Regions from separate parts of the Homo sapiens genome. Here regions 2, 3 and 4 are each linked to region 1. Evidence: fine-mapped expression QTL. A gene starts in region 1. Each other region holds a variant in brackets. All regions are shown on one strand. Distances are between the middles of the regions.

Region 1 (7,443 bases):
AAATTAGCCAGGAATGGTGGCATGTACCTGTAATCCCAGCTACTCGGGAGGCTGAGGCACGAGAATCACTTGAACCTGGGAGGCGGAGGTTGCAGTGAGCCAAGATCGCGCCACTGTACTCCAGCCTGGGCAACAGAGTGAGACTCGGTCTCAAAAAAAAAAAAAAAAAAGGAATGAGATCCTGTCATTTGCAACAACATGGATGGAACTGGAGGACATGATGTTAAGTGAAATAAGCCAGTATAGAAAGACAAATTTCACATGTTCTCACTCATAGATGGGAATTTAAAATTTTTAACTGATGAACTCATAGAAATAGAGAGTAAAATGATGGTTACGATGATTACCACAGGCTGGAAAGTGTAGCGGGGACTGGGGGATAAGTAGATATGGTTAATGGGTACAAAAATACAGTTAAACAGTTAGATAAAATAGATAAAATCTAGTATTTGGTAGCAGAACAGGATGACTATTGTTGACGATAATTTATGGTATATTTTAAAATAACTGAGAGTGGAATTGGAATGTTCCTAACACAAAGAAATGACAAATGCTTGAAGTGAGGGATGCCCTAGTTACCCTGATTTTATCATTACACACTGTATGCCTGTATCAAAATATCACAGGTACCCCATAAATGCAAACCCATAAAAATTAAAAATTTTAAAAATATATAAACTAGTAAAAAAAAAAAAAGTGGATTGTTGGTACTAGCTTTCACCTGTTATAATGAAAGAATGTGAGCTTTTTTAAATTGTAAGACCTTCCTGTTTTTCTTTTTTTTTTTCTTCTGAGATGGAGTCTCGCTCTGTCACCCAGGCTGGAGTGCAGTGGCACGATCTCGGCTCACCACAACCTCTGCCTCTCAGGTTCGAGTGATTCTACCACCTCAGCCTCCCGAGTACTGGGACTACAGGTGTGCGCCACCAGGCACAGTTAACTTTTGTATTTTTTCTTTTTTTTCTTTTGAAATGGAGTCTCACTCTGTTACCCAGGCTGGAGTGCAGTGGCGCGATCCTGGGTCACTGCAACCTCTGCCTCCCGGTTTCCACGCCCAGCTAATTTCTGTATTTTTAGTAGAGATGGGGTTTCACCCTGTTGGCCAGGCTGGTCTCAAATTCCTGACCTCAGGTGATCCACCTGCCTCGGTCTCCCAAAGTGCTGGGATTACAGGCGTAAGCCACCACGCCTGGCCGTTCTTTCTGTTTTTAAAGAGAATGTGGCTATCTGAATTTTCATGTGAAATCTCCAACCCACAATTGTTTTAAGCACTTTGGGGCTCAAGGTGGATGTACTCTGCTGCCAGTGTATGATTTCCATCTTTTTACAAACTGGAGTGCAGTGGCTTAAACACAACACACTGCAGCCTCAACCTCCTGGGCTCAAGGGATCCTCCTGTCTCAGCTTCTGGTATAGCTGGGACCACAGGCACGCACTGTGTGCCTGGCTCATTTTTTAATTTTTTTCTAGAGGCAGGGTCTCACTTTGTTGCCCAAGCTGGTCTTGAACTCCTGGGCTCAAGTGATCCTCCTGCATCAGCCTCCCGAAGTGCTGGGATTACAGACGTGACCAACTGTACCCAGCTGGTTTTTGTCTTAATAGGACTTGTGGGGGCCAGGCGCGGTGGCTCTTGCCTGTAATCCCAGCACTTTGGGAAGCCAACGCGGGTGGATCACTTGAGGTCGGGAGTTCATGAGCAGACTGACCAACGTGGTGAAATTCCATCTCTACTAAAAATGCAAAATTAGCCGGACATGGTGGCATGGGGCGCCTGTAATCCCAGCTACTAGGGAGGCTGAGGCAGGAGAATCGCTTGAACCCAGGAGGTGGAGGTTGCAATTAGCTGAGATCACACCATTGCACTCCAGTCTAGGCAACAAGAGTGAAACTCCATCTCAAATAATAATAATAATAATAATAATAATAATAATAATAATGGGACTTGGGGGTTTGTGAAAAGGGGATAAAGAGAAGAAGGGGATTATGGAAGGGTGAATGAATTGTCTCCTAGAAATAGATGGCAGTGGGGGCTTCTGACCACCCCCAACTAGGAAGAGCGTCCCTGGGGCTGAGGAGAGAGAGGTCTAAGGAATCTTGAAGAGAGTGTGGGGGCTATGGAATGACCACCTTCCATATAAAGGGGGCTTTGAAGGATATCCCAGGGGGCCAGGGGATCAGGAACAATGGACATTTCAAAAGTAACCTAGATGGATGCTGACTGGTGACGAGAGGGTCCTCATATCCCATCCTCCCCCCAGTACTTTGGCTTTATCCAAAATTTTAGTTCTGGACACATCCCTGGGAGAAGTGGGGACAACACCCTCCAAGAATGACTTTCGTGAAATTTTCCATCAACTTAGCAGAATGAGGCTCAGAGTCAAAACCTTAGTTGAGTTGCAGAAAACCAAGAAAGTTCTTGCACACTTGAGTTTGGGGACTAAGGTTTTTGCCTGTGCTCCCATCCAGAAAAGGGTGAGAATTGGTGAATTCTACCACATCCCCCTGCAGAGCCTAAGGGCCTCTCTCCTGTCTCAGCTAGCCTGGGGTGACATGTGGAGGAGGCACACATGGAAGGCGTGGACCCACGCAGAGTTCCCCAGATTGGAACAAGGACATGGAGAGGGTCTTGGTCTGACTTACCCCACAGGAGGGTTGCTCCAGCCCAGAGTATCCACCAGCTCCATAGGGCACCCATGGCTGCAGTAGGAAAAGAGAAAGGATCATAGAAGGCTGATCCACCGCCTCTGCTGGAGACTGTCCTGGGCAGAAGGGCCCACTCTCATGACAAGGGCCACCTGGGACCATGAAGGCTGAGGTGGGGAAAGAAGTCGGGCAGATTGGGCCAGGGGGTATGGATCCAAGGACCAGTGTGTGTGTATAGGGGAGGCTGGCTGTCCAGCGGGTCTGGAGGTGGGTTGGGGAGGGCAGAAGCCAGGGACGGGGTGGAGAGTTGGCTGTCTTGTGGGTCTAGGGGTAGGATGAGGAGGCCTACAGTCAGGGGCAAGAGTAGGGGACCTGCTGTCCCACTTCCAAAGGGGACCCCAGCCCTTCTCACCTGCAGGTCCCTGGAGCTGCAGGGCCAGCCCTGTGGCAGGGCTATATAGTGGAGTTTCTGGGCCACACCCTGGGCCACGTGCCAGGCAGATGATGCCAACTTCCTGGAGGAGGCTGCCATCCTCATGGCCAGATGAAATGGGAAACTGTGAAGGCCTGGGAAGGAGGGACAGTGATTCTGGATGCCTGGGTTCCAAGAAGGGAGTGAGGACAGCTGGTGGCCATTCCCTGGAAGCCTTCTGGAGAGTTTGGTCCTGGAAGGGTGGGGTCCCTGAGGGAGACAGCTGGGGAGCAGGCAGATGAGCACCTGGGTCCCTGGGTGGAGGTGGGGTAGGGTGGGGGTGTGGGCAGTGAGGGTGGGAGGTGGCATGTGGTCATATTTGCTGGCTTAGTGGCTAGGTTCCTTCCTTTGGCTCCTGCCAGGAACAACAGTGAGGGACCCATATCCGGGTCCTGGTTCCTTCTCAGTCCCCACAGGCTGGGGAGTCCCTAGCCACCCACATCCTGCTTCCAGACACCACTAGGGGCAGGTGTCTGGGATGGGCAGGAGTCTGAGGCTATGGAGTGGGACACAAGACCTCCACCGCAGCCCAGTGGGGCGTCTGCGGTTTCTCATCTGCAAAATGGGAACACCAAAACCAGCCTCTCTGGGCATCTTTACGTCCCAGAGATGTAAAAAAATTCTCAAGGACTGTAGAGCTGGGGGGCAGCCTCCTCTGGTGTGGGCGCAGGCCAGGCTGCAGGTGGGCACTGGGACTGAGGCGGTGTGTGAAGAAGGGACAATGGCCTCTGTTTCCTGGTTCCACACAGACACCCAGATTCTACTTCTGATCCCAGACACCTGCTCCTCAGTGGTGCTGGAAACAGGATATAGGTGGCCAGGGACTCCCCAGCCTGTGAGGACTGAGGAAGAGCCAGGACCTGTTGGTTTTGGAGTTTTTTTGTGTGTAGGGAGGGTTTGCTCTTAGCAGGGGCTAGCTGAACAGGTTTAGGGGACTCTGTGCCTCTCCATCACCCCAGAATTTGCCTGAGATGGGAGGTGGAGGTCTAGGTTGCACACAAGGAGCAGAAGAATGAGCTGAAAGTTGGGCTTTCTCAGCTGGAGTCAGCTCCTCTGAGGGGCTGGCCTGACCCATGCCCTGCCTGCCTTCTCCCTGACTCAGGATCTCATTGTTTGCTGGGGGAGTCTCCCCTGGGACCAGCAGCTGCAAAGCCTGGGTGCTCTCTTGGACCAACACCCTAGCAGCTGCTGCCCCTGGGGCTCCTCCTCTCTTATCACAGCAGCCTGGGCCTCTGGGAGGCCAGAGCGGGTGGGGGGCTTCTCTCTCCCTGGAGCTCCAACCAATCCCCACGCCCACCCAAGAAACGTTCCTGGAGGGAAAGATAAAGGCTAAGAGTTGACTGGGACATAAAGTCAACCAGGAGAATGAGGTGAGTAAATAGGAGACTGGCTAAAAGCCAGAGATAACAAGAAACAAGCAGGGGCAGGGGACCCACAGGAAGTGGAAGCTTTGGGAAAAGGATGCCTGGGTCCCTGAGGGGTCTAAAAGTTGGTGGAAGGGGCTGCTGGGTCCCTGAGACAGAGAAGGACTCGGAGGAGGAGACGTCGGGATTCCTAGGAGGAAACAGCAATTGCAAACCAAGATGTGAAAATTCTCTGTCTGAGGCCAGGCGCAGTGGCTCAGCTTATAATTCCAGCATTTTGGGAGGCTGAGGCAGGAGGATTGCTTAAGGCCATGAGTTTGAGACCAGCCTGGTTCAAGACCAACATAGTGAGACCCTGTATCTACAAAAAAATACAAAAATTAGCCAGGCACGGTGGTGCACGCTTGTAGTCCCAGCTACTTGGGAGGCTGAGGCAGGAGGATCACTTGAGGCCACAAGGTCAAGACCAGCCTGGGCAACATAGTGAGACCCTTTCTCTACAAAAAATATAAAAATAAACCGAGTGTGGTGGCATGCACCTGTAGTCTCCACCATTCAGGAGGCTAAGGTGGGAGGATTGCTTGATCCTAGGAGTCTGAGGCTGCAGCGAGCCGTGATCATGCCACTGCATTCTGGCCTGGGGAGAAAAAGAAAAAAGAAAATAAAATCCTCTGTGTGCCATATGCCTCTTGTAATTAGAGGCACTCAGAGACAAATGGGAGGTGAAGGGAAAGAATCAGGGTGAGTTTCATGGGTGTTTCTGGCCCTCAATTCTCTCTAAGCCTTGGGGTTTCCCCTGGTTGATCACAGAAAGAAGCTTCCTGCCTTCAAAATTCATCATCGCTCTCCACAGCCAGAGTCCCCAGAAATGGGGTGGTTGTGGTGGGAGATCTCACAAATTAATACTCTGTATGTGCCAATCCCCTTGGGTCTTCTTTCTCACTCCTTTTAAGGCCCAAGTGGTGTGTGTGTGGGTGTGTGTGTGGGTGTGTGTGTGTGTGTGTGTGTATGTGTGTGTGTACACCCCTGTGCTTTACCCTGTATTATATCAATTCTCAGGAAACCCTTTGGTGACCCGGGAAATAAACTCTGGGGACACTTCCTTATGGTCAGAGAAATCGCATCCATCCCTCCACTGGCAGCCTTGCTCTGAGCCCAAACAAGGGTATTTGTGTACCTGAGCCTTTCGGCCTCTTCCTGCTTATCTGCTTCCGTCTCCTTGCAGCATGGGCACTGGCTATACCATCCCAGACCCCTGGGCCCCTCTGACTAGTCTTGGCTTTATAGACTGGAGCACAGTGGAAGAGAATTTACTCTCTCCAGCTAAATTCAGGCTTGCGGGCAATTTCTAACTTAATTCCTTTACGCTCTGGATCCCACAATCCGACTTCCATAAGCACTGAACGTTTTGTTAAACTCTCCAATGACCCATTATTTGCCACTTGCCTCTAGTTCCTTCCCTCTAACATTTGACATTCACACTTCCTCTCTGCCTATAATAATTGAAATTCTATAGGAGATGTTCTCTGACCATAATGGAATCAGCTTGAAATGAATAACAGAAAAACAGGAAAATCTCCACTCACAAGGATATTGAGCAACTCACTTCTAAATAATCCATGGGCCAAAGAGGAAGTATCAAAAATACATAGAATTAAATGAAAATGAAAAGAAGATATTTCAAAATATGTGGGATATAGCTAAAGGGAAATTTATGGCATTAAATATTTACATTAGGAAAGAGGAAAGTTCTTAAACCAATATTCTAAGCTCTTCTTACACAATAAAGTAGTAAAAGACCAAAACAAACACAACGCAGAAGAAAGGAAATAATGAAGAGCAGAAATTAATAAAACTGAACATGAGAAAATCAATGAAACGAAAGAACTACTTCTTTGTTGTTGTTGTTGTTGCTAACAAGAGCAAGTCTTTGAATTTCCCAAATGTATTTGTGGATTTGTCTATTGTTGAATAGAGCATTCTATAAATATCAATTAGATCCTGTTGATTGATGCTGTTATTCAGTTCTTTGATATTCTCACATATTTTATCCTGGTAGTTCTATCAATTTGGTGAGACTGACGTTTTTAATTCTCCAACTATATTTGTGGACTTGTCTATTTCACCTTTCAGCTCTATCAGTTTTTGCTTCATGTACTTGAATCTCTGTTGTTTGGTACATATACCTTAGGATTGCAATGTCTTGGCAGAATGATCCTTTGTTTTTAGCAATGTTTTTCGCTCTGAAGGAAAGTATTTTCGTATTAATATAGTACTTCCTTCCTTTTAAAAATTTATATTTAAAATTATATATATATTTATTTATTTATTTATCTATTTATTTTTTAGACAGAGTCTCGCTCTGTTGCCCAAGCTGGAGTGCAAGGGCATGATCTCGGCTCACTGCAGCCTCTGCCTCCCAGGTTCACGCAATTCTCCTGCTTCAGCCTCCCAAGTAGCTGGGATTACAGGCACCTGTGACCACGCCTGGCTAATTTTTGTATTTTTGGTAGATACGGGGTTTCACCATGTTGACCAGGCTGGTCTTGAACTCCTGACCTCAAGTGATCTATCTGCCTTGGCCTCCCAAAGTGCTGGGATTACAGGGGTGAGCCACTGCACCCAGCCTAAAATTTATATTTATAATAACATAAATTAATAAAATTAATATATATTTCTATTCTTTTATTTTCAACCTACCTATGTTGTTATATTTGGAGTAAAGTTTTTTGGAGACAGTATCTAGTTGGATCATTTTTTAAATCCACTCTACCAATCTCTGGCCTTTTATTTCATGTAAGGAGATAGACTATTTACATTTAAAGTAGTTATTGATATGTTTGGACTTAAGATTAACATTTTAATATTCATTTTCCATTTGTTCCATTTCTCATTCTTATTTTTTCTTGCATTCCTGTGAGTTACATGAGCATTTTTTAGCATTCCATTTTGATTCATATTATT
Region 2 (7,443 bases), 120 kb before region 1:
TAATAGTCTCTCTTTCTTTTTTTTTTTTTTTTTTTTTTGTAGAGACAGAGTCTTGCTGTCACCCAGGCTGGAGTGCTGGAGTGCAGTGGTGCGATCTCGGCTCACTACAACCTTGACCTCCCGAGTTCAAGCAATTCTCCTGCCTCAGCCTCCTGAGTAGCTGGGACTACAGGTGCACGCCACCATGCCCGGCTAATTTCTTTTGTATTTTAGTAGAGACGGGGTTTCACCATGTTGCCCAGGCTGGTCTCAAACTCCTGAGCTCAAGCAATCCGCCTGCCTCGGCCTCCCAAAGTGCTAGGATTACAGGCATGAGCCACCGTTCCCAGCCCACTAATAGTCTCTTTACTGAACTCACTGTGCCAACAGCCACTGATATCAGAGTGGAAGAATTCTCCCAATGCCAGTATTAATAATCTAGTTAACTTCCCTCTTGCACATACAAAATCCTTTTATACAATTCAGTTGTTCTAAATGCTTGTGAGACATTTTTTAGATACCTTGTAAGTCATGTTTATAAGGATAATTGTGATAATTAATATAGAAGATTCTCTTAATCAATGTGACTCAAAAGGAAGCTTACAAGTGATCCTTAAAATTTCACTCTGGTGTGACAACCCTAGTGTAAAGAGAAATGAGCCTCAGTTTTCTTCCTACTGCTGTAGATTTTTTAAAGTAATAAAGTGATTCCTGAAAGTTGTTTTCATCTTAAGCTGACACATAATGTGATTTATTTTCCTGTTTACTTTTCCCCCTACAACAGGTTTAATTGCGTTAAATGGTGAGATGGGAGGCCAAGAGCCCAGGGAGGAGGACAGGCAGAGACAAGGTGGGAGAGGACCGGGTTGGACCAAGGCAGAGTGGAAAATGGGAGAAGGGAGAAGATGTGAGAGATGTCCAGCAGTCCCAGAGGACAAGCCCTGGAAGCTGATGGGCTGGACGGGGGGCAGGGATGGGAGGGAGGCATTCAGAATGAGGCCCATGGCTCCCTCTGAGAACCTGGAGCCTGGAGGGGCCACCCCTGAGACAAAGGCTGAGAGAGCATGTTTGGAATCTGGGACATGGTGAGTGTTAAGGGCCCAAGGATTGCCCAGTTGGGATTGGGGGATTGTCCATGAGGCCTCCGGATCCTCCAGGTCTAGGGCTCAGAGTAGAGGTCAGGGCTAAGGACAGAGTGTGTCATCTGCACAGAGATAGGAAACAGACCATGAAAGAGGGTAAGGTGGCCCCAAGGTGAGAAGAGAGAACATAGCCCCACCACATTTAACAGACTGGTGAAAACAGAGGAGCCCGCAAGGAAGCAAAACGTAGAGGAAATGTCAGGGGATAGCAGACTCACAGAAACTAAGGGGAGGGTGTGCTCACAGAAGGCAGGCAGGGTCACCACAGCCGATTTTTGCCAAGATGACCAATAAGATGAGCACCAAAAAGAGCCCACTGAGCCAGGCTTCTCACTGGCAGAGGAAGGAGTTATAAAGAAAGCAAGGGGGGGATGGTGAGAATGAACCCTCTGGTACTAGACTAGTGTCAGAGTATCAGTATGAACTCATGCTTATTTTTACACACCATTCTCCAATGAAAAGAACCAGTGACTCTAGAGGAAGAGCTAATTCTAGGGCTGGTGCAGGGAGAATACATGAGCCTGGAATATCTTGCAGTGCCAGAAAGTAAGAAGGTGTTGGAGAAAAAAAAAAGAGTAAAGAACACAGGAGCCAACCTGAAAGATAAACGCTGATGGCCAAGGCTAAAACAACTTGAGCAAAAAAAAAATTGATTACAATAATGTTGGGGTATGCCCAACTAATAAATATTCATGAGTCCACACGGAAATAAACTAATGATTGTATAAATAAAATAAGTGAAGTATGATAGAAGGGACAAATCTTCCATATGGAATTCTAAATAGTAAATGTAAAGAAATGAGGGAAACAGAAAGTCATCATTATAATATCACGGTAATAACTGCTACAGACCGGGTCCACTGATGAATGCTAAAATGTGTGGGTAAACTTGAAGGAGAAATGGGATATTTGTGCAGCCTCCAAGTATCTCCCTATTTCCCTCCAGGAATCAGGCTTAGCTCTCCTCTGAGTGTGGGCTGGATTTAGTGACTTGCTTCTAACAAATGAGTAAAGGGAAAATAGTGGTATTATCGTTGGGAAATCTGCAGACACCACTTTCATGAAGTGATCAGGTTAACCTCACCTCAGTGAGCATTCTTCCCAAAGCCTAAAATCCCAGTCTAACCACGAGCAAAATGTCAGACAACCTCAGACTGAGGGCCATTCTACAAAAACATCTCACCAGTACTCCTCAGAACTGTCAAGGTCATGAAAAACAAGGAAGGACTGAGAAATTGTCACAGATTGGAGGAGGCCAACGAGAAATGACCAACAAATGCAACATGGTATCCTGGATTGGATCCTGGAACAGAAAAAGGACATTAATGGAAAAACAGGAGAAATAGGATTCAAGTCTGGAGTTTAACAGAATATTAATCCATGTTAATTTCTCAGTTTTGACAAATATACAATAATTATGTAAGATGCTAACACTAGGTGGAAGTTGGGTGTAGGTATAGGGAAGTCCCTGTATCATCTTTGCAACTTGTCTGTAAATCTAAAATTATTAAATTTTAAAACGTTCACAAAACTTTAAGTCTCCTCTGCAATATGGCTCGAGGTGGTCCCCCGCGGAGTTCCAAAGCACGCTTTGTTTGACTCATCCTTCAGATCTCATCTTACATGCTCCCCACGCCAGGAAGTCCCACCTGACACCACAGACTGGGTCAGGAGCTGCCTCTGGCTCCCACAGTCCCCCTGTGGCTCCCCTATCCTGGCCCCAACCCCTCTGCCTCCCCATCCCAGCCCTGGTCACTGTCTGCCGTTGGGGTTGTCTTCCCCACTGGACTGTGAGCTTTGCGAGGGCAAGGTGGAGGCTGTCTCAGCCATTGCTGTGTCTCAGCCATTGCTGTGTCTCTCTTGAGTTGAGAGTAATGCGTGTCTCCCTGACTCCTCTGGGAATACCCATGAACAGGCAGAAGCTGCGCCTGAATCCTCCCAACTGACCCTTAACGCTTCACAGCCCAAGGCCTGCCAGATCCACCTTCCTGGTATCCCCTTTCCTGTTTGCTCAATCCAGGACACATCTGAGGCAATATAAATGGTCTGTCTCACCCATCAGCCAAAAGAGGGTCAAATCATCTCCAACCCCTGCCACACCTGCCCACCCACATGTCCGCCCTGTACACCAAGTGTCAGAAACACATGGTGACTGTGAATGTTTGGGGGGCCTGCCCAGTCCACAGCCCTTCTGAGCAGACAGTCATCACTATAGGAACCCTCCAGCTCCAGTGAGTTGAGCAGGGTTGGATACCCGACCCTGGAAATCCCATTCCTATCTGGGAAATTCGGAATGAAGACTGAGGGGCTGCGGGTAACTGAGCTGGAAGATCACATAGAGTGGGGGCAAGAGTCCACCCAGGACCAACCCAGCTGCCTGAGAACAGGAAGCAGCCAATGCAAAGAGAAGCAGAGACCACAGGGCCCAGTGGAAAGGAGGAATGTCACACCACTGTCTCACTTCTGCTTCTATTCTGTTCTCATGAAGCCCTTGTCAGGTTCTTTCCATCACTACCCACAACCAATCACAGTGAGTTCTGCCTTCAAAATGCACCCAGACTCCAATGACTACTCATTCTGCCCCTGCCCTGGTACAGGCCACTGTCATCTCACCTAGATTATTGCAGCAACCTCCTCACGGGCCTCCCTGCTCTCATTCTCAGCCCACACTTCCATCTATACACCCTCCCTTAGTGATCCCATCCTGGGCTTTAATACCATAAATATGCCAACTACTCCCAGCCCAGATCTCACCCTTCAATGCCAGTCTTGTATAAGCTCCTGTTTGGCCAGTGGGTCCAGTCAGAGGCTAAACACGCCCACACTCTCTCTCAGTCTTGTCCATACAGTTAATGGCACTCCCTCCTTCCTCTGTGCAGACTAAACGCCATAGTGTGGTCCTTGACTCTTCTTTCTTACCCTACATACCTGATTCTCCCTTCAAATTATATGCAAAATCTGACCACATCTCCCCACCGCCCCGTTAGCACCCTGGCCAAGCCACTATCATCTCAGCTGGACTGCACAGTGGCCTCCTCACTGGCATCCTGCTTCCACCCTA[G/C]TAGCCACATGGGAGCCAGAGGAACCCTCTTACCGTGGTAGATCACATCGCCTCAGCTCACCATGCTCTCCCTGCCACACATCTCATCAGCTTCAAATTCAAGTCCTTCCCATGGCCTCCCGGTCCCACCTGACCTTGCCTTGGTCTCCTTCCCTCCCACTGTGTCCAGTCAGGTCCAGTTCACTCCTTTCTGCTCCTCCAGCACACCAAGCATGCCTCGGGGCCTTTGAATTTGCTGGTTTTTTCTACCTGGAATGTCCTTCTTCCCAGAATATACATACAGCCAGCTGGTGTCCTCCCTTTCTGTGAGGTCCATTAACGTTTTTCTCAAAGAGGTCTTCTTTAACCCCTCTATCTAAAATAGCACCTCTTCCCACTCTCTAGTCTTCCAACCCTCAACTTCTACAGCTCTGTTCACTAATATTAGCATTCATCTTGCCCACTGGAATGCAGGCTCCAGGAGGACAGGGCTTTCGGGGGTCTTGTTTGCTACTATTAATAATACCAGCACCTAAAAATGCTTGGCATGTAGTAAATAGCCAGATCTGATGACTCAACAAATAAGAAAACCCTGGAATCAGTTAGGATATTGTTGATTCTAAGTAATAGAAAACTCAATTCAACAATATAGTTGGCTTAAACGATAGAGATATGTTGAATTCCCTAATGAGAAAGTCTAGAGGTAACTCACTCCAAGTGAGGCCTGATCCAGCACTTCAACAACATCACCAAAGACTCGATGTCTTTCCATCTCTCTACTAGTCCTTCCAAGAAAATGGCTAAAATCACATCACTAAGAAGTGGGTTGGCTGGACGCAGTGGCTCACGCCTGTAATCTCAGCACTTTGGGAGGCCAAGGTTGGTGGATCACTTGAGCCCAGGAGTTCGAGAGCACTCTAGGAAACATGGTGAAACCCCATCTCTACAAAAAATACAAAAATTAGCCAGGTGTGGTGGTGCATGCTTGTGGTCCCAAGTACTCAGGAGACTGAGGCAGGAGGATCACCTGAGCCCAAGAGGTCTAGGCTGCAGTGACTCCAGCCAGGGTGACAGAGTCAGGCCCTGTTTAAAAACAAAAAAAAAGAAGAAGAAGAAGAAGAAAAAGAAGTGGAAGTGGGTTACTAATGTGTTTATTCATCTGACCGCCACTTCTTCAACAATTGTGAAAATTGTAATGCTGATGAACATGATGCTGATAATAATAGCTATCACATATTCAGTGCTTTGTGCCAGGCGCTTTACTAGTACTTTATTAGCTTCTGTGTGCCTTCATTTCCTCGTTTGTAAAATGGGAACAGTAGTAGTACCACATACGGTGACTGAGGATTAAATGAGCTAATACATAAAATGGTAAGATCTTAAAAAAATATTAGCTTGTTTCAGTTAGCTATTGCTGTGTAACAAAGCATCCTAAGCCACAGGGGCATAAAATAGCAACCATTTCTTTGCTCATGATTCTGCAATTTGGACAAGGCTCAAAGGGTCAGGGGATTTGAGATGGTTCATTCCTACTCCACATGGTGTCAACTGGAATGGGAGTTAGGCCATCCCAAGATGGCATCACTTGCACGCCTGCACATCAGCTAAAAGTTGGAACAGCCGCGGGCTGGGGCAGATCTATAGAAAGGGCAGGGCTCCAAGAGTAGAAGCAGAATCTGCCAGGTCTCTTAAAGCCTAGGCCTCCATTTAGTACAGCATCATCTTCATTGTATTTTTTTTTTTTTTTTTTTGAGAAAGAGTCTCACTCTGTCACCCAGGCTGGAGTGCAGTGGTATGATCTTGGTTCACTGCAACCTCCACCTCCCGGGTTCAAGTGATTCTCCTGCCTCAGCCTCCAGAGTAGGTGGGACTACAGGAGTGCACCACACCTGGCTATTTTTTTTTTTTTTTTTGTATTTTTAGTAGAGATAGGGTTTCTCCATGTTGGTCAGGCTGGTCTCGAACTCCTTTCCTCAAGTGATTCACCTGCCTCAGCCTCCCAAAGTGCTGGGATTACAGGCATGAGCCACCGCACCCAGCCTGCTTTCATTGTATTCTATTGGTCAAAACAAATCTCAGGGCCAGCTCAGATATAAGGAGAAGGAAGGAGACTCCACCTCTTGATAGGAAAAACAGCAAAGAATGTGTGGCTGTCTTCAATCACAGCTATTTTAATTCCACAGTAACAGCCTTGTCACTGGTCTCCCTACTTTAATCCTTAATGCCTTATAGTCAATTCCCCACACAGAAGCCAGAGGAGTCTTTTAAAGTACACTTTAGTGTGAAGAATTTTAGAAGGAAACACACACACACACATACACACACACACAAACACCTGACCACGCTCCTGTCCCCAGCTTAAAATTCTACAACTTCCCACTACATGTGGGGTAAACACCCAAACTCCTTATGGCATACACAAGGTCTGACCTCTTGCTCTGCATCAGCCTCTAGGCTCCAACCATCCCAAACTCTTATCTCTTAAAGGAGTTAATGCCTACTCCTTCATCACCTCAAACCTCATTTCCTAGGATCCGGATTTGATTTCCTATCAAGTATTCTTATAACACTCTCTACCTTTCTTGGTAATTTCACACGTGTGATTATTTGATAGTCTAAATTACTGTCCCTATTACTGTAGGTTCTATAGGGGTAGGGGAATATTTTGTTCTCTTCTGTGTTCCCAATGCTGAGGAGAAAGAAGAGGCAAGGTGAAATACTTGTTGAATATCTTGAGCCCTCAGAAAACTTTAAGGCAGCTCCTTGGAGTTCTGTAGAAAGGGGATCGGCAGAGTCCCCGCCATGCTGGGATCCAGATATGTGCTCTTCAATAGTTTATTTGATAAGTAGTTACTGAGCCCTAACTGTGTGCCAAGCACTTTTCTATGTGTTGGAGATAACGGAGGAAGTAGACAAAAGCCCCTTCCCTGATGAAGTCAACAGTCTCCTAGAGGTAAGGGTCAGGGGAGACAGACCATAAACACAGATAAATTCTACAGAGTGTTAAACAGTAATATGATTAATGCTAAGGATAAAGTTAAAGAAGCAAAGATAGATGTGACTATAAGTCACAAATTTAGAAGGGTGGTGAGGGAAGATCTCAGGAAGGCAGTGACATCTCAGGAGAGACCTAAAGAGGAAGGAACAAGTCTGGGCTATTTGATAGATGAGTTCTTTAGGCAAAGAAAAGAGCAAGCACAAAGGCCCTCGGGCCAGTGTGGCTGGAGCACAGGGAGTAAGAAGAGTAGATGATGTCAGAGAGGTGATGAGGGCAGACAATGC
Region 3 (7,443 bases), 45 kb before region 1:
CACATAGTACACAAGGTCGTAGGCCACACGCAGGCCGAAGTCGGTCTCAATCACAACATCTGAACCATGCTGGGAGGCACGGATCTGGCCGTTGGCCAGCACCACGGGCAGCTTCATGTCCACACCGTTCACCTGGGAGGGGAAGAGAGGCAGGCCACGCTTCAGAAAGTATACTTTGAGTGAGGGTGGGACCCTAGTTCAAGCCCATGCCTGATGCTGATCTTTGTGACCTCACCTCTTAGGCCCTCAGTTTCCTATTTATTAAATGGATATAATAACAGGGCCTGATAGTAGATTGAATGGTGGTCCCCAAAAGACATATTCACACAGAATCCCATAGCGTGAGCTTACTCGGAATAAAGTTCTTTGCAGATGTAATCAGGGTAATAATCTCAACATGAGATTATCCTGGATTAAATTGGGCCTTAAATCCAATGACTAGTATCCTTATAAGAGCCAGAAAGAAAAAGGCAAAGAGACACACAGAAAAGGCCACATGAAGATGAAGGCAGGGATTAGAATGGTGTTGTCACAAGCCCAGAGAACCTGGAGTCTGCAGAGCTGGAAAGGGAAAGGAAGATCCCCCAACCAGTGTCTTTGGAGGGGGTGCAGCCCTGCCCACACCTTGATGTTGAACTTCTGGCACCCAGGACTGTGGAACATACATTTCTAGTGTTTTAAGCCACCAAGCTCGTGGTAATTTGTTATGGCAGCCATGGGAAACGAATACAGGTCTCGATGAAGTAACAAGCCTCCAGCTATCCTTTGTTTACCGCTTGCTGCAGCCATTAATAAGCAATGATCGCCCCCGGAGCCACTTGCCCGAGTTCAAACAGTTTCCCCCTTACCCTCTTTGTGACCTTGGGCAAGTGAGTCACCTCTCCCTGTTTCTGTTTCCTCATCTATCAAGTGGGAATAAGGCGTTTGCCCCATGGAACTGTTGTCAGGATCACATAAATTAGTATCTGTAAAGTGCTGAGAAACGTGGCTGGCATAGCATGCATGCTTCAGGAGCATTTGCTGTTATTAGCAGCTATGAGTGGAAGTTTTTCTTCTGAAGAGTAAACAGAACCACAGGTTTTTGCTTTAAAGCATCAGCGAGTGGAAAGTTAGGCTAAATTCTTGGGGAAATGAACTTAAACCTATGAGCTGAGGACCAGTGGTTTCAGTTAAAGATTTACTAGGCTCCAACAAAGCCTGGTAAATCCACCCCTGGACAGGGCACAGTGGCTCATGTCTATAATCCCAGCACTTTGAGAGGCCAAGGCGGGAAGATCACTTGAGCCCAGGAGTTCAAGGTCAGCCTAAGCAATATATCGAGATCCTGTCTCTACAAAATAAAAAAGAAAACAAATTAACTGGGCATGGTGGTGCATGCCTGTACTCCCAGCCACTCAGGAGGCTGAAGTGGTAGGATTGCTTGAGAGCAGGAGTTTGAGGCTGCAGTGAGCTAGGATCACACCACTGCACTCCAGCCTTGGTGATAGAGCAAGACCCTGTCTCTAAAAAATAAATAAATACATCAACCCCTGATTAACATGCTTTCTTACCCTTCCTTATCACAGACAGTGCACACCGGATTCTTTTGGAAATGTGAAGAATCAGAGGAGAAGGCAGGAGAAAGACATGCTCCTGGCTGAGTCTCCTAAAAAGATGGTCAACTGCCACACTTCCCAAGCAGGGCTGGGCGGTGGGTAAGGGCAACTGACTTAGCCTTGCCTCAGTTTCCTCAGCTGTAAACTGCGGGGTAATAAGAGCTCCCACATCTGTAGGGAAGCTGGGGGTTTCAGTAAGAAGCAACTAACAAGAACATCAACAACTCCTGTGTATTTAGGCGCTGTATGTCAGGGGCTATTCTAGGAGCTTGGGAAACATTAGGGAATATATTCAATTAAGTCCTGCATGTCGGCCGGGCACAGTGGCTCATGCCTCTATTCCCAGCACTTTGGGAGGCTGAGGCCGGCAGATCACTGAGCTCAGGAGTTGGAGACCAGACTGGCCAACATGGTGAAACCCGTCCCCACTAAAAATACAAAAATTTCCTGGGCATAGTGTTGCACACCTGTAATCCCAGCTACTCTGGAGGCTGAGGCAGGAGAATCACTTGAACCAGGGAGGCAGAGGTTGCAGTGAGCCGAGATCGCGCCACTGCACTCCAGCCTGGGTGACAAAGCCAGACTCTGTGCCAAAAAAAAAAAAAAAAAAGTCACGCCTGTCCAGTTCGCCAGATTAAGTCAGTAATTGATCAGCACCTTCGCCAATACTGCCACTAGAAAAACAGCTGCGTGTCTGTTTCAGTGGGATCTCAGGGGAAACCCCTCCACTGTAACTCAGATGCCAGTCTCCACATGAGACCAAATCTTCTCAGTAAGAAAAGCACTGCAGAGCAGCACGGGGTTCAAGCTCCACCTTTGCTGGGGGACTATGGGCCAGTGATGGGCCATCCCACTCTGAAAAATAAAGCAAGTCATAGTGCCTGCAGTCCCTGTTGCAAGCATACAGACACCATGGACGTGAAGTGCCTGGCAGCCAAAAGGTGTGCAGTCAGCTGTATAGAAACTATAGCTGCTGTTGTTGTTGTTAAGGCGGTGAGAGTGTCACCCACAGATTGTCCTCTGTCCATGAAGCTTCTCAAACTCGGACTTTCTCAACCTCTGATGGCACCACGTCCTGCCAATAAGTGGCAGACTAGGGAGGTGAGTAGGGCAGAATCCAGGACTGAGGTGGAGAGAGGATGGAGTGGGAGGGAGGAGAGGGTGGGAGAAATTTGGAGAGAAAAGTCAATGCATGGAGGTAAAGAGAGGGTGGAGACTGAGGGACAGAGATGGGGGAGCAGCTCCCAAGTCCCTGATGACACCTCCCTCATTGGCTTCCCACTCGGTTCTGACTGGCATCTTCTGTCCTCAGAGACCCCAGGCCTCGCACATGCACTCTCATCTCTTGTGCCCCCAACTCCTGGGCTGAGCGCTGCCTGTGCCCCACCTACCCACAGGCCCCTCGCCCCCTGCTCCCCATCTGCTCTCACCGTGACCTTCCACTGTCTCTGCTCCAGCCGCAGGGTGAAGTTTGCCACCTGGACCGTGATCACCCTGGTCACACTGACTCGCCCATTACCCCAGGCCACGTTCTCCTGCAGGACGGCAAACCGATGCAGGCCAGGCCGGGTGCCGCAGGTCTGAGCCAGCACATACACGCAGGTGCCCATGAAGTCGAAGCGGTGGCCATCGAAGGTGGTGTAGTGGGGATCTCCCGACGCCTGGCAGGTGGTAGAGCCCACGGCCACGCAGCCCAAGCTGCCACCGGATGGCCGGCAGGTCTCATGCGGGCCGCAGCTGGAGGGCTCACAGGACACCTCACCGCCCTCCCGGCAGCGGCAAAGGGAATCACACCCAGGGCCAGGGTAGAAGGTCTGGCCCAGTGGGTAGTAGCGGTCATCGTGGAGGCAGCCACACTGGCCCACAGGTACACACGTGTCACCACTGAGCACGAAGCCAGCATCGCAGACACAGCCTTCACGGCAGGCCGACTCACAGCCCTCGGGTGCCGACAGGCTCGGGCAGCTCCCAGGACAGGAGTCACCGCAGAGCTCGTAGTGGCTGTGGGCAGGGCACTGGAAGGCTGTGGGGACAAGGTGGGCATCAGCCAGGTAGGTGTTTGAGTCGCAGTCTTGGGAGGCCCTGAGTGGGAAAACTGCTCAGGCCAACTTGGGCGTCTCTGGGCA[T/G]GCACATGTGATCCAGGACATCTAACTGGGGGACTCAGCGTGGGACCTGGAATGGGAGGGGACATGCCCAGGTCTCTCTGACCAAATATTTCTGAAGATCAAATGACTCTGCTTGGCTGATATTTTTTTTTTTTTTTTTTTTGAGACAGGCTCTCACTCTATCTCACCCAGGCTGGAGTGCAGAGGCGCAATCACAGCTCGCTGCAGCCTCCACCTAAACCTCAAGCAATCCTCTGGCCTCAGCCTCCCGATTAGCTGGGACTACAGGAGTAAGCCACCACATCTGGCTGATTTATTATTATTTTCTGTAGAGATGGGGTCTCACTATGTAAGCCAGGCTTACCTGGGTGAAATGGATCACTTATATCTATTCGGGGTATGCAGGATCAGAACTGACTATGGGCATCTCAGCGTGTGAATGTGACTGGGGTGTGGGGCCACATGTATCTCAGGGTATGGCTCTGCCTGAGGGCACCCAGCTGTGGGTGTCTGACATGCAGCATCTCCCAGAGTCCTTCTGACATGGTCTGCCTAAGGCTGTGCCTGGGTGAAGTTGGCAGGATACCTGTGACCAGGAGACCTGCCTGAAGGGAACCGCCTAGGACTATCTAACTATGCATCTGTGTGGATCTGCCCAAGGCTATGCCAGGATCCTGTTTCTTTCTGAGTGTATCTGACCAGTCAGTATAAAATTTAAGCAGATATCACTGAAGGTATGCGACTAATTCCATGTGACTAGGTGTATTTCAGTGTGTGCAACAGACCTGGGCCCTCTGACCAGCTGAAACTCACTAGGTCTTCCTAACAAGGGGTACTTTGCTATGTGACAGAGGCAGGGTCAGCCATCCCAATCTACATGCCTTGGATACCTGAAAGCATGGATCACCAATCCCTAAGAGTGTCCTGGACCCCAGGTTTCTTTTCTTTCTTTTTTTTTTTCTGTTGTTTGTTGTTTGTTTGTTTTTTGTTTTGGAGATGGAATCTCTGTCACCCAGGCTGAAGGGCAGTGGCACGATCTCGGCTCACTGCAACCTCTGCCTCCTGGGTTCAAGTGATTCTCCTGCCTCAGCCTCCTGAGTAGCTGAGATTACAGGTGCCCGCCACCACGCCCGGATAATTTTTGTAGTTTTAGTAGAGGTGGGGTTTCACCATGTTGGCCGGGCTAGTCTCGACCTCCTGACCTCAGGTGATCCGCCCGCCTCGGCCTCCCAAATTGCTGGGATTACAGGCGTGAGCCACCGCGCCCACACTCTGACTAGGTGTTTCTAACTGACTCTCTCTCACTGCAGTACCTGACTTGGGGCATTTCAGTGTGTCAGTGCCAAGGTGTTTCCTGACAGTAGATACCGAGCTCGGGAAGGAAAGTGGCCCCTGAGCCCCATGGAGGAGGAAGGGGCTGCTGTCCTACAGTCCTGGGAAGGGCAGGGAGAGACCCAACCATGTGGACCATGCATGGAGCAGTACTCACGACAGAAGTCCGGCCGCCTCCACTCGCGGAGCTGGGCCCCAGCGGCCTGACAGGCTGCCACGTAGGTGGCCACTGCAGGACAGAGGCCTCCAGGATGGCCCTGAACTTGGCAGGCGTCCAGCAAGCAGCCCTGGAAGTACTGCGCGGGCGGCACAAGGCCGTGGCAGGGCGCCAGCGGGCCGTCGGTGGCGGAGATCACGCCGCAGGCGTCCGGGCCGCCGAAGGACTCTTGCTGCTCTGGGGTGCACGGCGACGGGCATGGCTTGGACACACATTCCCCGCAGCCCTGGGCGCCGCCCACCTGCCATCCGGCGGGCTTCCCGCCCACCGCCTTCAGGTCGTCTGCGGGGTCCTGGTTGTAGTTCCCGCATAAGCCACAGAGAGAGCCCGCGTACGCCGCCGGCACGCGCAGGCGCACGAAGCTGTCCCCATCGAAAGCCAGCGAGAGCCCTGAGGTTGTGGTCACCACCACGTCGGCGCCGCTCAGGTGTGCGTGCAGGAGCGAGTCCAGCTGGAAGGGCAGAGTGACGAACACGCCGTCCACCTGTGGGCAGTGGGGGAGCGGTGAACGGAGCAAACACGGGTTTGAATCCTGGCCCCACTACCTACTAGCTGTGGGACCCAGAGCATGTCACCTCCCGCTGAAAATAATAATGAGCATCTATAGGCCGGGCCTGGTGGCAAAGCCTGCAATCCCAGGACTTTGGAAGGCCGAGATGGGAGGATCGCTTGACGCCAGAAGTTCAGATCAGCCTGGGCAACATAGTGAGACCCCCATCTCTACAAAAAAATGAAAAATTAGCCAGCGTGGTGGCGTGTGCCTTTAGTCACAGATACTTGGGAGGTGGAGGCCAAGGCGGGAGGATCGATTCAGCCCACGAGTTCCAGGCTGCAGTGAGCCCTAATCCTGTCACTGCGCTCCAGCCTGGGCAACAGAGTCAGGCTAAGAAAAGAAAGAAAGAAAGAAAGAAAAGCAAGAAAGAAAAAAAGAAAAGAAAAACAAAGAGCCTCTACTGGCTCATGTCACTGACTCCTTATCCTTCTCGAAAACAGGTACTTTTCCTAGACCAGTTTACAGAGGAATACACTAGGCTCACAGAGGAAGAAGCTGCTGTGCCAAGCCATCAGGCTCCTAGGCGTACACTCTGACCCTTCCATCATGCCCCAGCTAAGCTGTGAAAGGGGCCCAGGGGAATGGTGAAGCCCTTACCATCTCAGGCAACCCCAGAGCTGGCACTTGCTCCTGTCTGGCCCACAGCCCTCCTCACCTGTAGCTTCCGGGGCCAGCGGGCACTCAGTGTCAGGCTGTGGTTGTAGATTTGCAGGGTGACACTGCGGGTGTAGCTGACAGCCTGGCTGCCCCGGTGCTCATTGGCTACAGTGACAGTGAAGTTCTCAGCCCCCAAGGGTGGTCCGTGGCAGGGTGCACTCAGCAGGTACTCGCAGGTGCCTTGGAAATCGAATCGGTGCCCATCCAGAGTGACGTAATGGGGGTCACCCCACGCCTGGCACTCAGCTGTGCTGACGGGCTGGCAGCCGTGCTGGCCGGATGGCAGGAGGCCACACACTTCACCCAGCCCACAGCTGGCAGGTGTGCAGACCAGCGAGCCACCCCCAGGCCCGCAGCGACACCACTGGGAGCAGGTGCCATCAGCCCAAAACTCACTGCCCGCCTCGTGGTAGGTGCCATTGGCCCAGCAGCCGCAGCCGTTGTTGAGGGGAACACAGCGGTCAGCACTTAACACGAAACCCGCGTCGCACTGGCAGCCCTCCACACAGGGGCCCTCACATACGGCTGGCGTCGTAAGGGGTGCAGGGGACGGACAGCTGGCCGGGCAGGGTGGGCCACAGACCTCATAGTGGCTGTTTTCTGGGCAGGTGATCTCTGTGGGCAGATGAAGGAGCAGGAAGGAGAGAAACAGAAAGAAGGGTGTTAGGGGTGGGGTCCCAGAACAGGGTGGGAGGAGACAGAGAGAGACACTAGGGAGCAGACAGAGAAAGGGGGAGACAGAAAACAAGACACAGAGAGAGGACACAGAGAAAGAAATGGGAGAGGGCGAGACACCAGGAGACCCAAGCAGAAACTGAGGGAGCTAGAGAATGAGAAACAGACAGATAGAGACAAGCAAAGCGAGGCCCAGAGACGAGCACCAAGAAACAGAGAGACAAACAGAGAAAAAAGAAAACAAAGAGACCCAGAAGGACCAGAGTGAAACCAAACCAGCCCCGAAGAGATGGGACCCCGCCCCCAGCC
Region 4 (7,443 bases), 64 kb before region 1:
TGTTGTGATTATTAAATGAATTAACATCCAGAACATGGCCGGGAGAGGTGGCTCATCCCTGTAATCCCAGCACTTTAGGAGGCCAAGGCAGGAGGATTGCTTGAGCCCAGGAGTTTGAGACCAGCCTGGACAACATAGCGAGATCCCATTTCTACATAAAAATTAAATAGTCAGCCAGGGATGGCAGTGTGAGCCTGTGGTCCCAGCTACTCAGGAAGCTGAGACAGAAAGATCGCTTGAGCCCAGGAGTTTGAGGCTGTAGTAAGCCGTGATCATGCCACCGCACTCCTGCCTGAAAGACAGAGTGCAATCCTATCTCAATAAATAAATAAATAAATAATAACACCCATAACAAACATGGTGCATAGTAAGAGCTCAAAAAAATTATTAACAAGAATAAATCAATTCTTCAATTTAATTCATATTATTAAACAATTATTAGCTGGGCTACCTATTTGCACTGTTGTAAACTGCTATTTCTTTTTTTTTCTTTTTGACATGGAGTCTCGGTCTGTTGCTCATGCTACAGTGCTGTGGCACAATCTCGGCTCGCTGCAACTTCCACTTCCCGGGTTCACGGGATTCTCCTTCCTCAGCCTCCCGAGTAGCTAGGACTACAGGTGTCCACCACCACACCCAGCTAATTTTTGTATTTTTAGTAGAGACGGGGTTTCACCATATTGGCCAGGCTGGTCTCGAACTCCTGACCTTTTGATCCGCCCGCCTTGGCCTCCTAAAGTGCTGGGATTACAGGTGTGAGCCACTGCGCCCCGCTGTAAACTGCTCTTTCTTTTTACTGAGTGTGATGAACATGCAGGGCAAGGCCCAGTGCTCAGTGGGTATCTTTCCTGTATAATCGGGCCTGATCCTCAGATACCTATGGTACAAAGATGGTGATTAGTCCCATTTTACAGGTGAAGAAAATGCAGTTCAAGGAGGGGCCAAATGATGCCCCCGCCCCAAGATATCAGGTCCTAATCCCTGTAATGAGTAAATGTCACCTTATATGGGAAAAGTGTGTTTGCAGATGTGATTGAATTAAGGATCTGAAGATGGAAAATTTCTCCTGGATTATCTGAGTGAGCCTTAGATGCAATCACGTGTATCCTTATAAGAGAGAAGCAGAGGGAGGTGTTATGACACACTCAGAAGAGGAGGCAGAGGTTGGTGTGATGTGGCCACAACCAAGGAAAACCTGCAGCAACCAGCAACTGGAAGAGGCAACAAACAGATTTTCCCCTAGATTTCTTTTTTCTTTTCTTTTCTTTTCTTTTTTTTTTTTTTTTGACATGGAGTCTCGGTCTGTCACCCAGGCTGGAGTGTAGTGGCGCAATCTCGGCTCACTGCCACCTCCGCCTCCTGGGTTCAAGTGATTCTCCTGCCTCAGCCTCCTGAGTAGCTGGGATTACATGCACGCACCACCATGCCCGGCTAATTTTTGTATTTTTAGTAGAGACAGGGTTTCACCATGTTGGTCAGGCTGGTCTTGAACTTCTGACCTCGTGATCCGCCCGCCTCAGTCTCCCAAAGTGCTGGGATTACAGGTGTGAGCCACCGTGCCTGGCTCTTTTCCTTTTTTCTTTAGAGGTAAGGTCTTGCTCTGTCACCCAGGCTGGAGTGCGGCAGCGTGATCATAGCTCACTGCAGCCTCCAACTCCTGGGGTCACGCCATTGTCCCACCTCAGCCTCTTGAGTAGCTGGGACTATAGGTGTGCACCACCATGCCCAGCTAATTAAAAAAACAATTGTATGTTGCCCAAGCTGGTTTTGAATTCCTGGGCTCAAGTGATCCTCCCGCCTTGGCCTCCCAAAGGGCTGGGACTGCAAGTATGAGCCACTGGGCATGGCCTCCCCTAGATTTCTCTGGAGGGAGTGCCACCTTGCCAACACCTTGATGTCAGCCCAGTATTCCTGATTTCTGACTTTTGGCCTTCAGAACTGTGGGAGAATGAATTTCTCCTGTTTAAGCTACCATGTCTGCGGTAATTGGTTACAGAAGCTGCAGGAGACTAATAGGGGGAGGTTGCCTGCATCAAGTCACATAGCTGGGATATGGCGGTACCTCCTCTGTCCCCAGCCTTGAAGAGGTCAGCACAGAATCTCTGGGTCTCTCTCAAGCTCTTCTACCCTCTCTGCCCACCCCAAGCCCCTACTCACCGGCAAGTATCGGCCATTATGGGTGCAGCCACAATCTTGGACAGGGATGCAGACACCCTGGGAAAGCAGGAAGCGGTCGTCGCACTCACAGCCCTCAAAACAGCGGGTGGTGCAGCCCGTGAGGCCGGAGAGAGCCGCACAGGATCCCTGGCAGGTGCGAGTGCAGATGGAGTAGTGGCTGTGGGCGGGGCAATGGAGCGCTGCAGAGAGAGGAGGCAGGGCTGAGTCACACCTCCAAAGGGTCCTGGATAACCAAGGGGGCCTACTGCACACCCAGCCCTGTTTTAGGCGGTGCTGAGGACACAAATACTGAGAAAAGTCTCAACCCCAGTCCTACAGAGCTCACTTCCAGTGGGACAGACAGGAAGAGCCCAAAGTGAACATGCTGCATCAGGGAGTGTAGACAGAGAGGTCAGGGTCAGGGTGGGGAGGCACAGGCAGAGGGGTCAGGGCAGGCATGAGGGGGCAAAGGCAGAGGGGTCAGGGCCAGGGTAGGGGGCTACAGACAGAAGGGTCAGGGCTGGGATGGGGAGGGCACAGACAGAGGGTTGAGGGCCAGGGTAGGGGGCACAGGCAGAGGGGTCAGGACCAGGGTCGGGGGCACAGGCAAAGAGGTCGGGGCCAGAGTGGGGGCACACAGGCAGAGGGGTCAGCGCCAGGATGGGGAGGGCACAAACAGAGGGTTGAGGGCTGGGGTTGGGGGCACAAGCAAAGGGGTCAGGGCTGGGGTGGGGGGGCAAAGGCAGAGGGGTCAGGGCCGGGATGGGGAGGGTACACACAGAGGGTTGAGGGCCGGGGTAGGGGGCACAGGCAGAGGGGTCAGGGCTGGGTAGGGGGCACAGGCAGAGGGGTCAGGGCCAGGGTGTGGGGGGCACAGGCAAAGGGGTCAGGGCTGGGATAGGGGGGCACAGGCAGAGGGGTCAGAGTTGGGACAGGGGCTATATGGACCCAAGGGAATTATCTGTGGTAAGTCCCTGGTCTCTGGCTAAGCAATTGGTGGAGGTGTGGCTGTTCTGCAATGCCCACCAGGTTTGGGGAAGGAGCATCAGGCTGGGGGTGAAATGCTGATTTTATTTGGGAACACAGCAGGTAAGAGGGACGGTAAGGACACCCAGGGGAAGGTGTCTTGGACACCCTAACAATTACCACAGACTTTGTAGCTTAAACAGGGGAAATTCATTCTCCCACAGTTCTGAAGGCCAGAAGTCAGAAATCAGGATCACTGGGCTGACAGTCAGGAGAGAGTTCAGGGCTTGAGACAGACAGACCAGGTCCATGGTCAACAATGAGAACAAATCTAAGGCCGCGGGTGTGGATGACCGCCCTGGGTATAGGTCCTGCCCAGGGGAGACCTGGCTCTGACCTGGAGCCGAAGGGGCCATTGCTTTTTCCTGAGAGTCTCTGGTGATGTCCCTCCCATGGGGAATTGAATGAGAGGTACAGTCCTAGTTTAGCGGGGTGTTTAATAGCCTGCAGCCTTGTCTTGGGGGGATCTGAGGGGATATGGTCTTGTCGGGGGTAGAAGGAGGGTCTGTGTGAGCCACAGATCTCCCAACCCATCCAACTCTCCCTTTCAGGTCACTGCAGAAAGAGTCCAGAATAGAACACTAGGGAAGAAGAGAATTTGAGGTTTGAG[C/G]AGAGTGGGCCCAGACAGGAGGCTGAGAAGGAACAGTCAGAGGGATAGCAGGGAAGCCAGTGGACTATGCCGTGGGAGAAGAAGTTGTGTGGGTGTGGGGTGGGAGGGGGTGGGGAGGGAGCGCTTTTACAGGGAGAAACCACTCCGACATGCAAATAGAAGGAATGGGCCAGGAGGGGCCCCTACACCTGGTCTAGAGTCCTGCGAGGGACCCACGGACACTCACGGCAGAAGCTGTCTGTCCTCCAGGGCTTCACGGCCACGCCAGCTGCCTGACAGGCCGCCGTGTAGGCTGCCAGGCTGCGGCACAGGAAGGCTTTGTCACCCTTTTGCGCGCACAGGTCGTATACGCATTGGCGGAAGTACTCAGAGGGACTCAGCACCGCCTGGCAGGTCGCGAAGGGGCCCTGGGGGTTCCGGAGCTGCCCGCAGGCCTCGTTGCTCTCATAGGGTGCAGTCTCCTCTGCCAAGCACACTGGGCAGCCTTGGGGCCCGCAGCCCTCGCCACAGCCCTTGGAGGAGCCGGGCGCCCGCCATGCAGCCCCGAAGGTCTCCACACTGGACGCTGCTGAGCCATTGGGCAGGACAAAGTCGTCACTCCAGTTGCCATTGAAGTTCCCACAGAGGCCACAGAGCCGTCCACGGAAGGGGCTGGGGATGGACATGAGGAGGTGGGCATCGCCATCAAAGAGAAGCCGCAGCCCCTTGGTCGTCTGCAGAACCATGTTTCGGCCCTCGGCGGTCACCCGCACGCGGCCCACAGCCACAGGCAGGGCCACAGCCTCGCCGTCCACGGTGACCTGGGTGGAAGGGTCGGGTAGGTCAGGAACTCACAGAACCACAGGCAAGGCTGTCCTGTCCCACTCCCAGGCCAGAGCTGCATCTCCCTCAGTCCCATTAACGTCAGGTCATGTTTCCCTTAAACTTCTTGGGCCCCAGGCCTGGCGTGGTGACTCACACCTATAATCCCAGCACTTTGGGAGGCCCAGACAGGTGGATCACTTGAGCCCAGGAGTTCGAGACCAGCCTGGCCGTGACAGCAAGACCTCATCTCTACCAAAAATAAAAAATTAGCTAGGCATGGGGGGCTGAGGTGGGAGGATTGCTTGAGCCCAGCAGGTTGAGCCTGCAGTGAGCTGTGATCACGCCAATATACTCCAGCCTGGGTGACAGAACAAGACCCTGTCACAAAACAACACAAAAATCTCCCACGGTGGGACCATTCACCAAACCTTCCAGGGTAGGTACCAGAGTTCCCATGTTAGAGGAATGTCCCTCTCATACCTACAGGGTGGGGTCGTGTCTCCCTCAGAACCCCCTAGATGGGGCTGTGTTGCCTTCAGACCCCCAGGGCAGGCTCACATGGACTCACCTGCTGCCCCTGAGCTAGGCTCACAACCTGGCCAGCCACAGTAACCAGGAGGCGTTGGAGATCTCCAGCTGCATTCTTCTCAAGCACGATGGAAAAGTCCTCGTCCCCAGGCTTTGGGTGGCAGACTTGGGCCAAGACATAGGAGCAGGAGCCATGCAGGTCGTAGACACGGCCATCAAGGGTGATGTAGTGGATGCCCCCGTTGGCCAGGCAGCGGCCACAGCCTGTGGCATGACAGGCCTGGACACCATCCTCTAACCGGCACTCCTCATGGGGCCCACAGGCTGCGCCCTCCTGGCAGGTGACATGGCCACCTGGCCCACACTCACAGCGCCGCTCACACTCAGGGCCCGGGTAGAAGACCTCGCCCAGTGGGTAGTAGCGGCCATCATGGAGGCAGCCACACTGGCCCACGGGTACGCAGGTGTCACCACTGAGTACGAAGCCAGCATCGCAGACACAGCCTTCACGGCAGGCCGACTCACAGCCCTCGGGTGCTGAGAGGCTCGGGCAGCTCACAGGGCAGGAGTCACCGCAGAGCTCATAGTGGCTGTGGGCAGGGCACTGCAAGGCTGTGGGGACAAGGTGGGCATGAGCCAGGTAGGTGTTCGAGTCGGGGTCTTGGGAGGCCCTGAGTGGGAAAACTGCTCAGGCCAACTTGAGTGTCTCTGTGTATGCACATGTGATCCAGGACATCTAACTGGGGGACTCAGTGTGGGACCTGGAATGGGAGGGGACATGCCCTGGTCTCTCTGACCAGGTTATGTGTTAGCCTGACCAAATATTTCTGAAGATCAAATGACTCTGCTTGCCTGATTTTTATTTATTTATTTATTTATTTATTTTTTATTTTTTTGAGACAGGGTCTCACTCTATCTCACCCAGGCTGGAGTGCAGAGGCGCGCTTACTGCAGCCTCCACCTCCTGGGCTCAAGCGATCATCCTGCCTCAGCCCCCCGAGTATCTGGGACTACAGGTATGAGCCACCACATCTGGCTAATTTATTAGTAGTTTTCTGTAGAGATGGGGTCTCACTATGTAAGCCAGGCTTACCTGGGTGAAATGGATCACTTATATCTATTCGGGGTATGCAAGATCAGAACTGACTATGGGTACCTCAGCGTGTGAATGTGACTGGGGTGTGGGGCCACATGTATCTCAGGGTATGGCTCTGCCTGAGGGCACCCAGCTGTGGGTGTCTGACATGCAGCATCTCCCAGAGTCCTTCTGACATGGTCTGCCTAAGGGTGTGCCTGGGTGAAGTTGGCAGGATACCTGTGACCAGGAGACCTGCCTGAAGGGAACCGCCTAGGACTATCTAACCATGCATCTGTGTGGATCTGCCCAGGGCTATGTAAGAGTCCTGATTCTATCTGAGTGTATCTAACCAGTTAGTCTCAGTACAAAATCTGAGCAGATACCACTGAAGGTATGTGACTTATTCTATGTGACTAGGTGTATTTCAGTGTGTGCAACAGACCAAGGGCCTCTGACCAGCTGTAACTCACTAGGTCTTCCTAACCAGGGGTACCTTGCTGTGTGACTGAGGCAGAGTCAGCCATCCCAATCTACATGCCTTGGATATCTGAGAGCATGGATCACCAATCCTCAACAGTGTCCTGGACCCCAGGTTTCTGACTAGGTGTTTCTTTTCTTTCTTTCTTTTTTTTTTTTTGAGATGGTGTCTCACTCTGTTGCCCAGGCTGGAATGCAGTGTCACATCATGGCTCACTGCAACCTCTGCCTCCTGGGTTCAAGTGCCTCAGCCTCCTGATTAGCTGGGATTACAGGTGCCCACCACCACGCCCAGATAAATCTTGTATTTTTAGTAGGGACAGGGATTTCACCATGTTGGCCGGGCTAGTCTCAACTTCCTGACCTCAGGTGATCCACCTGCCTCGGCCTCCCAAAGTGCTGGGATTACAGGCGTGAGCCACCACGCCCACACTCTGACTAGGTGTTTCTAACTCTCTCTCACTGCAGTACCTTTCTTGGGGCATTTCAGTGTGTGAGTGCCAAGGTGTTTGGTGACAGGAGATACCAAGCTCAGAGGAAGGAAAGTGGCCCCTGAGCCCCATGGAGGAGGAAGGGGCTGCTGTCCTACAGTCCTGGGAAGGGCAGGGAGAGACCCAACCATGTGGACCATGCATGGAGCAGTACTCACGACAGAAGTCCGGCCGCCTCCACTCGCCGAGCTGGGCCCCAGCGGCCTGACAGGCTGCCACGTAGGTAGCCACTGCAGGACAGAGGCCTCCAGGATGGCCCTGAACTTGGCAGG

The links. PIP is the estimated chance that this variant, and not a neighbour inherited with it, causes the effect. A credible set is the group of variants that fine-mapping cannot tell apart.
Region 2: its variant is the best candidate, but not a certain one, in a credible set for the expression of FCGBP in whole blood (INTERVAL, PIP 0.61).
Region 3: its variant is fine-mapped to the expression of FCGBP in fetal neocortex (Walker 2019, PIP 0.95).
Region 4: its variant is the best candidate, but not a certain one, in a credible set for the expression of FCGBP in NK cells (Schmiedel 2018, PIP 0.89).

The regions. Positions count from the first base shown.
Region 1 is chr19:39,931,924-39,939,366 of GRCh38, forward strand. FCGBP (Fc gamma binding protein) reads right to left here and starts at 2,711. Exons shown (of 36, transcript NM_003890.3): 1 at 2,641-2,711. The coding sequence starts at 2,695.
Region 2 is chr19:39,815,289-39,822,731 of GRCh38, forward strand. No RefSeq gene overlaps it. Among named protein-coding and RNA genes, the nearest start is that of MIR6719, 11 kb to the right of the region's middle. The variant G/C (reference allele first, on the strand shown) is at 4,183.
Region 3 is chr19:39,886,454-39,893,896 of GRCh38, forward strand. It overlaps FCGBP (Fc gamma binding protein), which reads right to left. Exons shown (of 36, transcript NM_003890.3): 21 at 6,458-7,074; 22 at 5,190-5,733; 23 at 3,026-3,618; 24 at 1-132. Among named protein-coding and RNA genes, the nearest start is that of FBL, 44 kb to the left of the region's middle. The variant T/G (reference allele first, on the strand shown) is at 3,722.
Region 4 is chr19:39,868,059-39,875,501 of GRCh38, forward strand. It overlaps FCGBP (Fc gamma binding protein), which reads right to left. Exons shown (of 36, transcript NM_003890.3): 30 at 7,330-7,443; 31 at 5,166-5,737; 32 at 4,020-4,593; 33 at 2,158-2,357. Among named protein-coding and RNA genes, the nearest start is that of FBL, 25 kb to the left of the region's middle. The variant C/G (reference allele first, on the strand shown) is at 3,794.